2 separate regions of the Homo sapiens genome follow, and region 2 is linked to region 1. Evidence: fine-mapped expression QTL. A gene starts in region 1. The other region holds a variant in brackets. All regions are shown on one strand. Distances are from middle to middle.

Region 1 (5,381 bases):
CCTAGTACTAAATAGATAGTTTTTCAAAAAATGCCCCACTCCCTCCCTTACCCCTCAGGTAGTCCACAGTGTCTACTGTTTCTATGTTCATGTCTATGTGTGTTCAGTGTTTAGCTCCCACTTATAACTGAGAACATATGGAAGTTGGTTTTCTGTTTCTGCATTGCTTTGCTTAGGATTATGGCCTCCAGCTTCATCCATATTGCTGCAAAGGACATGATTTTACTTTTTTATTATGACCATATAGTATATCATGGTATATATGCACCACATATTTTATCCAATCCACCATTAATGGGCAACTACATTAATTCCGTGTCTTTGCTATTGTGAATGGCACAACAATGAACATACATGTGCATGTCTGTTTGGTACAACAATCTACTTTCCTTTGGATATATACATAGTAATGGGGTTGCTGAATCAAATGGTAGCTCTGTTTCAAGTTTTTTGAGAAATCTTCAAACTGGTCACTCTCCATACGTTCGTAAAAATATTATGCCTTGGAATGCTAACGTTACTCCTAAAAATTGGAGTACTCTCCTTGGCCTTACTGTAGAGATAAAAGGTATAGATGTCCTCATTACTTAGAGTTGCTTTCCACAGTGGCTGAACTACGTAACTGCTTAAGCTACATCCCCATGAATAATGTATAAGCATTCCCTTTTCTCTGCAGTCTCACAGTGTCTGTTGTTTTTTGATTTTTTAATAATGGCCATTCTGACTAGTGTGAGATTGTATCTCATTTTGGCTTTGATTTGCATTTCTCTGATAATTAGTAACGTTGAGCATTTTTTGTAGGCTTATTGGCCTCTTGTGTGTCTTCTTTTCAGAAGTATCTGTTTATGCTCTTTGCCCATTTTCTATTGGGGTTATTTGTTTTTTGCTTCTTGATTTGTTTAAGTTTCTTATGGATTCTGAATATTAGACCTTTGTTGGATGCATAGTTTGCATATGCTTTCTCCCATTTTGTAGATTGTCTATCAATAGTTCCTTTTGCTCTGAAGAACCTCTTTAATTAGGTCCCACTTGTCAATTTTTGTTTTTGTTGCAATTGCTTTTGAGGACTTAGCCAAAAATTACTTGTCAAGATTAATGTCAAAAAGAGTATTTCCTAGGTTTTCTTCTAGGACTTTTATGGTTTGAGGTCTTAAATCTTTAATTCATCTTGAGTTAACTTTTTATATGGTGAAAGATGAGGGTGCAGTTTCATTCTTCTGCATATGGCTAGCCAGCTATCACAGCACCATTTATTGAGTAGGGAATCCTTTCCCCATTGATTGGTTTTGTTAACTTTGTCGAAGATCAGATGGTTGTAGGTATATGACTTTATTTCTGGGTTCTCTATTCTGTTCCATTGGTCTATGTGTTTGCTTTTGTACCAGTACCATGCTATTTTGGTTACTGTAGCCTTGTAGTATAGTTTGAAGTTGGGTAATGTGACGCCTCTGTTTTTGTTCTTTTTGATTAGGATTGCTTTAGCTAGTCAGACTCTTTTTTGGTTCCATATAAATTTTAGAATAGTTTCTTTTCTAATTCTGTGAAGAATGACGTTGGTAGTTAGATAGGAATAGCACTGAATCTGTTAATTTCTTTGGGCAGTATGGCCATTTTGAAGATACTGATTCTTCCTACCCATGAGCATGGAGTGTTTTTTCATTTGTGTCACCTCTGATTTCTTTCAAAAGTGTTTTGTATTTCTCCTTGTAGAGATATTTTACCTCCTTGGTTATCTGTATTCCTAGGCATTTCATTTTATTTGTAGCTATTGTAAATGAAATTGTGTTCTTGATTTTACTCTCAGCCTGGACATTATTGCTGTATAGAAATGCCACTAATTTTTGTACACTTATTTTTTTCCTGATACCTTACTGAAATCATTCATCAGTTCCAGTAGCCTTTTGGCAGAGTCTTCAGAGCTTTCTAGGCATACAATCATATTGTCAACAAGGAGAAATAGTTTGACTTTTTCTTTTCCTGTTTAGATGCCTTTTATGTCTTCCTCTTGCCTAATTGCCCTGGCTAGGGCTTCCTAATTTCTTTTGTAATATTTTCACATGAAAATTCTCCTAAGCTTAAAACTACATATCCCAATGCCTGTGGAAATCTCATCTTGGACTTCCTCAGACACTTGTGAGCAAAATCAAACTTCATCTCATTCTTCTGCTTAAGACTTTTCAGTGGTTCCCATCACCTACAGAATAAAATTGATGCTCCCGCGCTTAGTGTATCATATAAAGCCTGCTGTGAGCTGGTCCCAACATGCCTTTCTGTCCACATGTATCACTTCCTTCCTTTTCATCATTCTCAATTACTAGTAATTCTGTCACACATTATATTTGCATATCTGTGCTTTGGTTCTTTTTTTTTTTTTTTTTTTTTTTTGAGACGGAGTCTCGCTCTGTCGCCCAGGCTGGAGTGCAGTGGTGCTATTTCGGCTCACTGCAAGCTCTGCCTCCCGGGTTCAGGCCATCCTCCTGCCTCAGCCTCCCGAGTAGCTGGGACTACAGGCGCCCGCCACCACACCTGGCTAATTTTTTGTATTTTTAGTAGAGATGGGGTTTCACCATGTTAGCCAGGATGGTCTCAATCTCCTGACCTCGTGATCCACCTGCCTCAGCCTCCCAAAGTTCTGGGATTACAGGTATGAGCCACCACGCCCGGCCTGTGCTTTAGTTCTTTACATGAAACTCCCTTTCTACCTTGTGTTGCCTGGCAAAATCTTACTTACCCAGAACTCTGCTCCGGCATCCTCCGCAGGAAGAACACTTTCATTGAACCCTAGCATTGTCCCTAATACCCTTAATATGTATTGTCATAGCACCCTATGAATTTTTCTATATCACTTTCCATCTTATATTTAAATAATCTTTTTACTTGCCCATCTCTCCCACTGATAATCTAAGCTGGCAGAGGCTGGATCAGATCATAATTATCTTTCTATTCTTAGCGCTAGGATCAATGCCTGGCATAGCATATTTACATTTTTTATTTAAATAAACTGACCTGACTTTCTTCTGGTTGGATATGTTCTGAGTCCCTATTACTAACCTTGGTCTTTTATCTCAGAAGTTGAAGGCTCCCCTGGAGCCAGCTGCAAAGTTCCCAAAGCCCTAACAACCCCACAGCCAATCAGCTACAGAGTAGGCTGCCCTGAGTCGGCCTCCCCAACACAAAGTCCAGGGTTGGAGCAGGAGCAGGAGAGGGACAATGGAAGCTGCCCCGTCCAGGTTCATGTTCCTCTTATTTCTCCTCACGTGTGAGCTGGCTGCAGAAGTTGCTGCAGAAGTTGAGAAATCCTCAGGTAAAAGAAAAATGTAGTTGGGTGGCTATAGTGTGAAAGTGTTATTAGGAGAAGGAAAGGGAGCATGGTGGTTCTCTGGGTACTTTTCCTCCACACCTAGAAAGCTTTCCAGGAAATCCTGGATAAGTGCATTTTGCCTGGTAGAGAGTAGGGAAGTCTGGCAGTATCCTTCAGAGACAGACCATCAGTAGGGTCACCTTCCATATGTTAGTAAAAATATTATGCCTTGGAATGCCAACAGTACTCCTATAAATTGTGCTCTTCTTGCCCTTAGTATAGAGATAAAAGGTATAGATGCCCTCATTATTTAGAGCTGCTTCTTCTTGCCTCAGTACCCTGACATCTTCTGCTTCTCTCTCTAGATGGTCCTGGTGCTGCCCAGGAACCCACGTGGCTCACAGATGTCCCAGCTGCCATGGAATTCATTGCTGCCACTGAGGTGGCTGTCATAGGCTTCTTCCAGGTTAGTTCCCTACTTGCAATTCCCCCAAGAGCCAGAAATGTTCTACCTTAAGGGAACCACAGCAGCCACCTGCTGCTGGCAGATGGCACTGCATTAGAAGTGGGGGTAAAGGGAGACAGCCACCCAGTTTGATTTCATCTTGTCCATTGGGACCTCTTATTTTCAAGACATTCCCAGTCTCTAAATTATATCTTTCTCATACTTACTTCAAGAGTTCTGAGCCTGTGGGCTGCATCTCCTCATCTATGGATGCTTTGAAGCTCAAGTCAGTATCTGCAGAAAGAATGCCTTCATGGAACCCCACCATTGTCCTAAACACATTTGGTCTATACTCTCATAGCACCCTATGAATAGGCAGGGGCCAGAGTGAACCCAATTTATATCATCCAGCAACACTGTTTACAGGATGCCAAACATCCTGGACATTAGTCAGTGCACAGCCTTTTAAAGCCTTTCCCCCAAATATGGTAGACTCTCCTTCTTTCTCTTTGCCTTGTCTGAAATGTTGGAAAATGATGGCATTTTGTATATTCAAGGTGTTAACCTCCATCTTCCAGATTAGCTTCTTGACTAAGAAAGGCAGCCATAAATGAGACTGCCTCATTCCAGCATTTTCATCTTTCTCTGGTGGTAGCATCTGGAAATCCTCACAGCTGATCAAGCCCCTACTCTCTCATAGCAGACCTTCTTGTCTGTTTCCATTTCTCAGTTACAACTCCTGATTACCCTGTCAGTTCTGCGTACACAGTTGGAAATCACTGCAATGAGATGCAAGTCAGGGAGAAAGACAGGGACAACATTTTTCAGGAATGAGAAATCTGAGCTGTAGACAAAAACACCGTCAGAAAGATGGGGAAGGGGCAAGAGCATGGAATTGGAGGAGTGTGCAATAACTTAAACAGCCGCCAGATGCCATCATTTTATCCTCCAGCAATTCCATCTGAAGGAGCAGAATAAGAGAGGAGGCCTCAATTAATTATTGTTCATGGCCTCTAGAAGAGTAGATACCAGCTCCCTCTGCTTGACCCCAGATGCAAGACGGGTATGTTAGTTTCTTCTCATGCTGCCAATAAAGACATACCCAAAACTGGATAATTTATAAAGGAAAGAGTTTTAATTGAATCACAGTTCAGCATAGCTTGGAAGGCCTGAGGAAATTTACAATCATGGCAGAAGGAACCTCTTCACAGGATGGCAGGAGAGAGAATGAGCACAAGCAGGGGAATGCCAGACGCTTAAAAAACCATCAGATCTTGTGACTCATGCACTATCACGAGAACAGCATGGGGGAAACTGCCCCCATGATCCCATTACTGCCACCTGGTCCCACCCTTGACATGTGGGGATTATGGGGATTACATTTAAAGATGAGATTTTAGGTAAGGACACAGCCAAACCATATCAACTGGCCATCTTCTTTTCTCCTTGCACATCTCCTCCTTCAGCCTGGGGACTTGCAGGGTAGAACATGTTTGTTCCTGTTAATTTCCTGGAGCTGCTATGGATAAAGGTCCCGTGAGAGCAGGGAAAATGATGCCAGCGTCTATGGAAGGCCTGGAATCACTGTTCGCAAGTGGCTTCTCTGCTGCCTCCTGCAGGCCTGGGCTGCAGAGT
Region 2 (5,381 bases), 27 kb after region 1:
TAAAGAAGGATTTAGGACTTCCAGGAGTAAACAGCTCAGTTTACTAATCTAAATATCATTGTTATAATGTTTTCCAGAAAGAAAATCGTGAATCAGAAGGAAAGACTCCAAAGGTGGAACTCTGACTTCTCCTTGGAACTACATATGGCCAAGTATCTACTTTATGCAAAGTAAAAAGGCACAACTCAAATCTCAGAGACACTAAACAACAGGATCACTAGGCCTGCCAACCACACACACACGCACGTGCACACACGCACGCACGCGTGCACACACACACGCACACACACACACACACACAGAGCTTCATTTCCTGTCTTAAAATCTCGTTTTCTCTTCTTCCTTCTTTTAAATTTCATATCCTCACTCCCTATCCAATTTCCTTCTTATCGTGCATTCATACTCTGTAAGCCCATCTGTAACACACCTAGATCAAGGCTTTAAGAGACTCACTGTGATGCCTCTATGAAAGAGAGGCATTCCTAGAGAAAGATTGTTCCAATTTGTCATTTAATATCAAGTTTGTATACTGCACATGACTTACACACAACATAGTTCCTGCTCTTTTAAGGTTACCTAAGGGTTGAAACTCTACCTTCTTTCATAAGCACATGTCCGTCTCTGACTCAGGATCAAAAACCAAAGGATGGTTTTAAACACCTTTGTGAAATTGTCTTTTTGCCAGAAGTTAAAGGCTGTCTCCAAGTCCCTGAACTCAGCAGAAATAGACCATGTGAAAACTCCATGCTTGGTTAGCATCTCCAACTCCCTATGTAAATCAACAACCTGCATAATAAATAAAAGGCAATCATGTTATAGGAGAAAGGCTGGCATCTCTTTGCAGGCCAAACCTTTTGTAAATACCCAGCTGCCCAACTAAGCAGCATGTTCCTCCCTCTGCAGTGCCCACTGTTTAGTGTCAGACCATAAGCCACTAACATGTTATTGTTCACTCTGTGGGTGGGATGGGTGGAAAATAGAGACCATCCTGCATGAGGATTGGAACAAATGTGGCAACTGAGCTAGGAAGCAAATTAGGTGAAAGGTTGGGGAGCAGATAGGAGAAGCAGGGCACTGGCAGTGGGACGGGCTGAGGCTGACTAAGCCTTGGATTATTGCAGGTAAGGTGTGTGATCCAGCTCCTGTGTGGTGAAAGGAGAGCTTGGCTGAGTGACTCTGGCCCATAGGCTGTTACTATCAACACACAGATGCTGCATTGTTCCCAGGAGGCCCTTGGCTCAGGAGGAAAGTGCCTAAGTGCTGAAGAGCTGAAAAACCACAGATGTACCTAAGGACTGGTCCAAGTGAGGAACAGGGAGTGAAAGGCTCAGTTGTTCTTTCTGTGGGGAAAACTCCACAGCCCCTGGGCGGGAGTCAGCTGCTGGCAACCACACTGTGAAAGCCCCAGTGTAAGGCGTGCCCTTCAGCAACGAGACCAAGGTATTCTGTGGAGGTCACACAGTCCAACCCAGGGCTGCAGAAAACCACCCAAACAGCTTCTCGCTTGAGGCTGAAAAATATTCCTAAGATAGGCACATCCCAGAAGGCTCCTTTGGATCCTGTAAACGAGAGCTCTTGACATTTACGGTCAGGAAATTCTTCCTGATATCCAGCTGAGGTCCTCTGGCCATGGAAGCTATTTCTTCTTGCCCACCCTTTGTGGAAATTCTTAACAGCTTCCAGATGCCCTCCTCAAACCATGCCTTTAACCACTTGCTGGCTGCACTGAAGCCCCTTTATCTAGCCATCTTTCCCCCATACTCACAATCTAACTCTCATCATTTGGTTTTTATCATTTGATTTACTTCATTGTTTTTCTCGCCTCATTCTTTCCCAACTTTTCCTCTTTCTTGCTTAAAATAGTTGGAACCCAAACTATAGTAGGACCCATGAGCTACATTTTGTTTGATATTGTGCTAATTTTTCAATTATTTTTCTTGAAGTGTTCCCCTCAAAAACAATAATCAAAATGGACCACATGGGTCTTAACATCTTTACAATGCATTTTTCTACTTGCTGACATTCAATAACAATTTTATTATATTATTTTATATACTTATTTGTATGTGTATAATATTGAAGTGAATCCTTCCTTCTCATCTTGTAGTTCTTCATAACTGCCAGTTACTTTTGCCGGTCTTCTTCATAGGCAGTCCTGTTCTTTGTAGCTCCGGGGGTCTCATAACCAAAGAATGGGACTTCAGAAAGAAGAAATTTGTAAAGATTCACCCATTTATTAAAGATCAGATCTTTAGAAGGGCACAGTGACTCATGCCTATAATCCCAGCACTTTGGGAGGCCAAGGCGGGCAGATCACAAGGTCAGGAGTTCAAGACCAGCCTGACCCACATGGCGAAACCCTGTCTCTCCTTAAAAAAAAAAAA[C/AC]AAGAAATACAAAAAAAAAAAAAAAAATTGGCCGGGCATGGTGGTGCAGGCTTGTAATCCCAGCTACTCAGCAGGCTGAGGCAGGAGAATCGATTAAACCTGGGAGGTGGAGGTTGCAGTGAGCCGAGATCCTGGATCCTGCCATTGCACTCCAGCCTGGGCAACAGAGAGAGACTCTGTCTCAAAAAAAAAAAAAAAAATCAGATCTTATAAACATCTGCAATTTTTTCTCTGTCTTGAGAATCTTTTGCCAGGTCTACATCCATTTCCCCAGGGCTATGTTATTGTTGAGATGTCTGGATACATCTCAGCTATTTTTCATTGTGGAATCATTCAATGGCCCTCACTGACAAGACTGCCATACTTTTTCTTTAGAGTACGAAGGAAGTGATAATATTATACAATATAAATTTGAAAAAGATGTTAACATATTTGGAAGACTATGATGGAAGGAGCGGGACTGAAGCAGGATTCAAAGGAATGACTGGAAAGTTTGGGTTTGAGTCTCACCTATTCTATGTATGTGCCTCTATGACACTGGAAAAATTACTTTTATCTTTGAACTTTAGTTTATTAAGGTTAATGTAATAATTATTAGGATTGCTTGAGATCCCAGGGTGATAATCCCTATTAAGTAAAGTTTGGCTATTACTTTTCTCTTAAGTTAATACTACATTGCCTTCTCTGGGAAATAATCATTTCTCTAATTGTTAGAACTTACGGGAAGGCAGAGACTTCATTCAGGCTGTTTCTTTGAGGCTGAAAAAGTATTTGAGATAACAGATTTTAAATGTAGCTTTTATTGTTTTCTAGGTATGGGGTGGCCAACAGATCAAAAAAGATAGCCATTTGAAAGATAGTTTATTACTCACAGTTCCCAAGAGGAGGCAGCATGCCATGCTGTGCAGGGCCACATAGGGAAGTATCAGGGTCAGTCAGAAGGCAGAAGGAGTAAAGGTGAAATGACAAGGGCCTTTATTATGGTCTCCATGGGAAGAAATGGGAAAGGGTTAGGAGGGTAAGGAGGCTTAGGATTGGCTGGTTTCGATAATTTCAGCAGGCTCTGGGGCATAGGAGCTTTCCCTTGTTGCCTGGAACCTGGCCCTGGGTGGAGTGGCTGGGTGGTAGCCCAGCATGTGAGAGCCCCATGAGAGTCCAGTAAGGAGATAGTTGGGGTATGGACTCTGGACTGGTTGGTTTGCATATAAAAGCTATACTAGCAGGTGAGTTTATTACTATCTCCAGGAATTGGCTATCTCTAGGAGGGAGGGGCAATCTCTCCAAGGTAAGCAAAGTCCCAGATGTCAAAGCATTAGAAATACATAGTAAAACAGCCCCAACGTCCACTTGTCAGGGGATTCCTGTCCTTCCTCGCCTATTGGGTCATGCCAGAAGGGAAGGCTGCATTCATCAGGCCCATCTTAATACACATATACCTTGAGCAGTCAGGGGTAGGATGAGGGCTATGTAGCGTATTGAGAGAGAGTAGTTTATTTATATACTCATTCACTCATTTAAATATTCATTAAACAACTATGAGTGTGGCAGGCAAAGCTGCCCTCTGAGAGAGAGAGAGCAATTGGTGATGATTGGATGATGAGCTATAGAACAGAGACTTTTCAGTTGTAGTGACAACAGGCAACATGGAAGCCACCAGAATGGTTCTGAGTCACGGACAGAAAGCAGCCAAACAGGGAAAGCAATACACAAAGAAAGAGGTATGTTGTGGAGGGGACTGGGCAGGAGGCTGGCCGTGGGCTGAGGGGGCCCCAGAGCTGGGGGAGGAGGAGCCACAAAGGAAACAGTCCACAACCATCATAAGCTAACTTTATTTCACAATTGAATTTGGAACCAGTCCTATTTATTTCACCTTTCTGAAAATATCTGGTTTTCTAAACAGAGAAAAGTAAGACTGGAAGTGGGATGGATCTGACTCATGGCTCCTAATTGCAGAAACCTTACATGGCGAGACCTAGAGAATTGGAAAAGGAGAAAGTTAAACACGAACACCTTTTGAGTGTTGAACTTTTGGAAAAAAGGTACTCTGGAAATCAAAGAAGCAAGTGAATTTTAAAATCATACCTCTGTAAATTTGAAGGTGATTCACCCTCCTTCGAATCACTTCTAAGATAGGTCTCTCTTTTCTTTCTGTTCTGGAACAAGAAGTCATTGTTTTTGTGGCCTTGACAATGAAATATCTGAGTCATACTAGGGGTGGAAGGATATGTGTGAGTAAAGGATGAGGGTGTTAAGCCACTTCTATAGTTTATGAAAAGTTGTGTGGAATCCAGGCTTTAATGTTTAATTATCCAAACAATTTCACTAAATCTTAATAGCAGGATTTAATTTCTACATTAGCCCACTGGTCTTAAAATGGTAATATGGTGTTAGCATACACTTAAGGAAGAAAAAATAGAGCACGTTTGACATAATTCAAGCTGTGGTGAAGTAACAATTTTAAAATTGTTAATTTTAAAATTAACATTGTATTACGGGTCATGTTTTCCAAGAAGACTCTGCAACTAAATTCCATTGCAAGGAGTTTATTGGGGAGCGTCTGGGGATCTGTGAAGAAATAAAGAAAGTAGGGTTCCACAGAAATATAAGTTAGGCTGCGATGCAGTCACAACAAAGGCTTAGATTATCCCATGTGGATATTTGGTGCTGAGGTTTCCTTGTAGAGTACCCCAAATTGGAGAATGAGACCCAGGCCTCTATACCCCAACATTGAACATCTGATGTTGCAAGCTGCACATAGGAAAGGTGCATGCTCGTGGGCAAGATGGCTCATTTGAGCAGAGGGAGATTTCTGGGCTGGTTGGTGGGTGGGATTCATCTAAGAGCTCTTAGCTGTCAACATACTCAGAGCTGGGAGAAGCTAATGACTTTGGGGTGATCTGTGCGGCTCACCACAGCATCCACTACACATGTCTAGAACTGTATCTCCTTTTATACCATCATAGTTATTGCACCAATGCTATGCAAAAGAATAAGGAA

Alleles and levels. Alleles are on the strand shown, and positions count from the first base shown. SD is a standard deviation of normalised expression in the study named.
As copies of AC replace C in region 2, the expression in regulatory T cells of the gene that starts at base 3,182 in region 1 goes up (moderate effect, 0.47 SD a copy in Bossini-Castillo 2019).

Evidence for each region. PIP is the estimated chance that this variant, and not a neighbour inherited with it, causes the effect. A credible set is the group of variants that fine-mapping cannot tell apart.
Region 2: its variant is the best candidate, but not a certain one, in a credible set for the expression of ERP27 in regulatory T cells (Bossini-Castillo 2019, PIP 0.63).

What each region holds. Positions count from the first base shown.
Region 1 is chr12:14,936,338-14,941,718 of GRCh38, reverse strand. ERP27 (endoplasmic reticulum protein 27) reads left to right here and starts at 3,182. Exons shown (of 7, transcript NM_152321.4): 1 at 3,182-3,304; 2 at 3,667-3,767. The coding sequence starts at 3,211. RefSeq lists an enhancer at 3,667-3,726.
Region 2 is chr12:14,909,479-14,914,859 of GRCh38, reverse strand. It overlaps ERP27 (endoplasmic reticulum protein 27), which reads left to right. Exons shown (of 7, transcript NM_152321.4): 7 at 78-821. The coding sequence ends at 125. LOC124902885 (a long non-coding RNA gene) reads right to left here and starts at 4,753. Exons shown (of 2, transcript XR_007063221.1): 1 at 4,467-4,753; 2 at 4,195-4,356. The variant C/AC (reference allele first, on the strand shown) is at 2,385.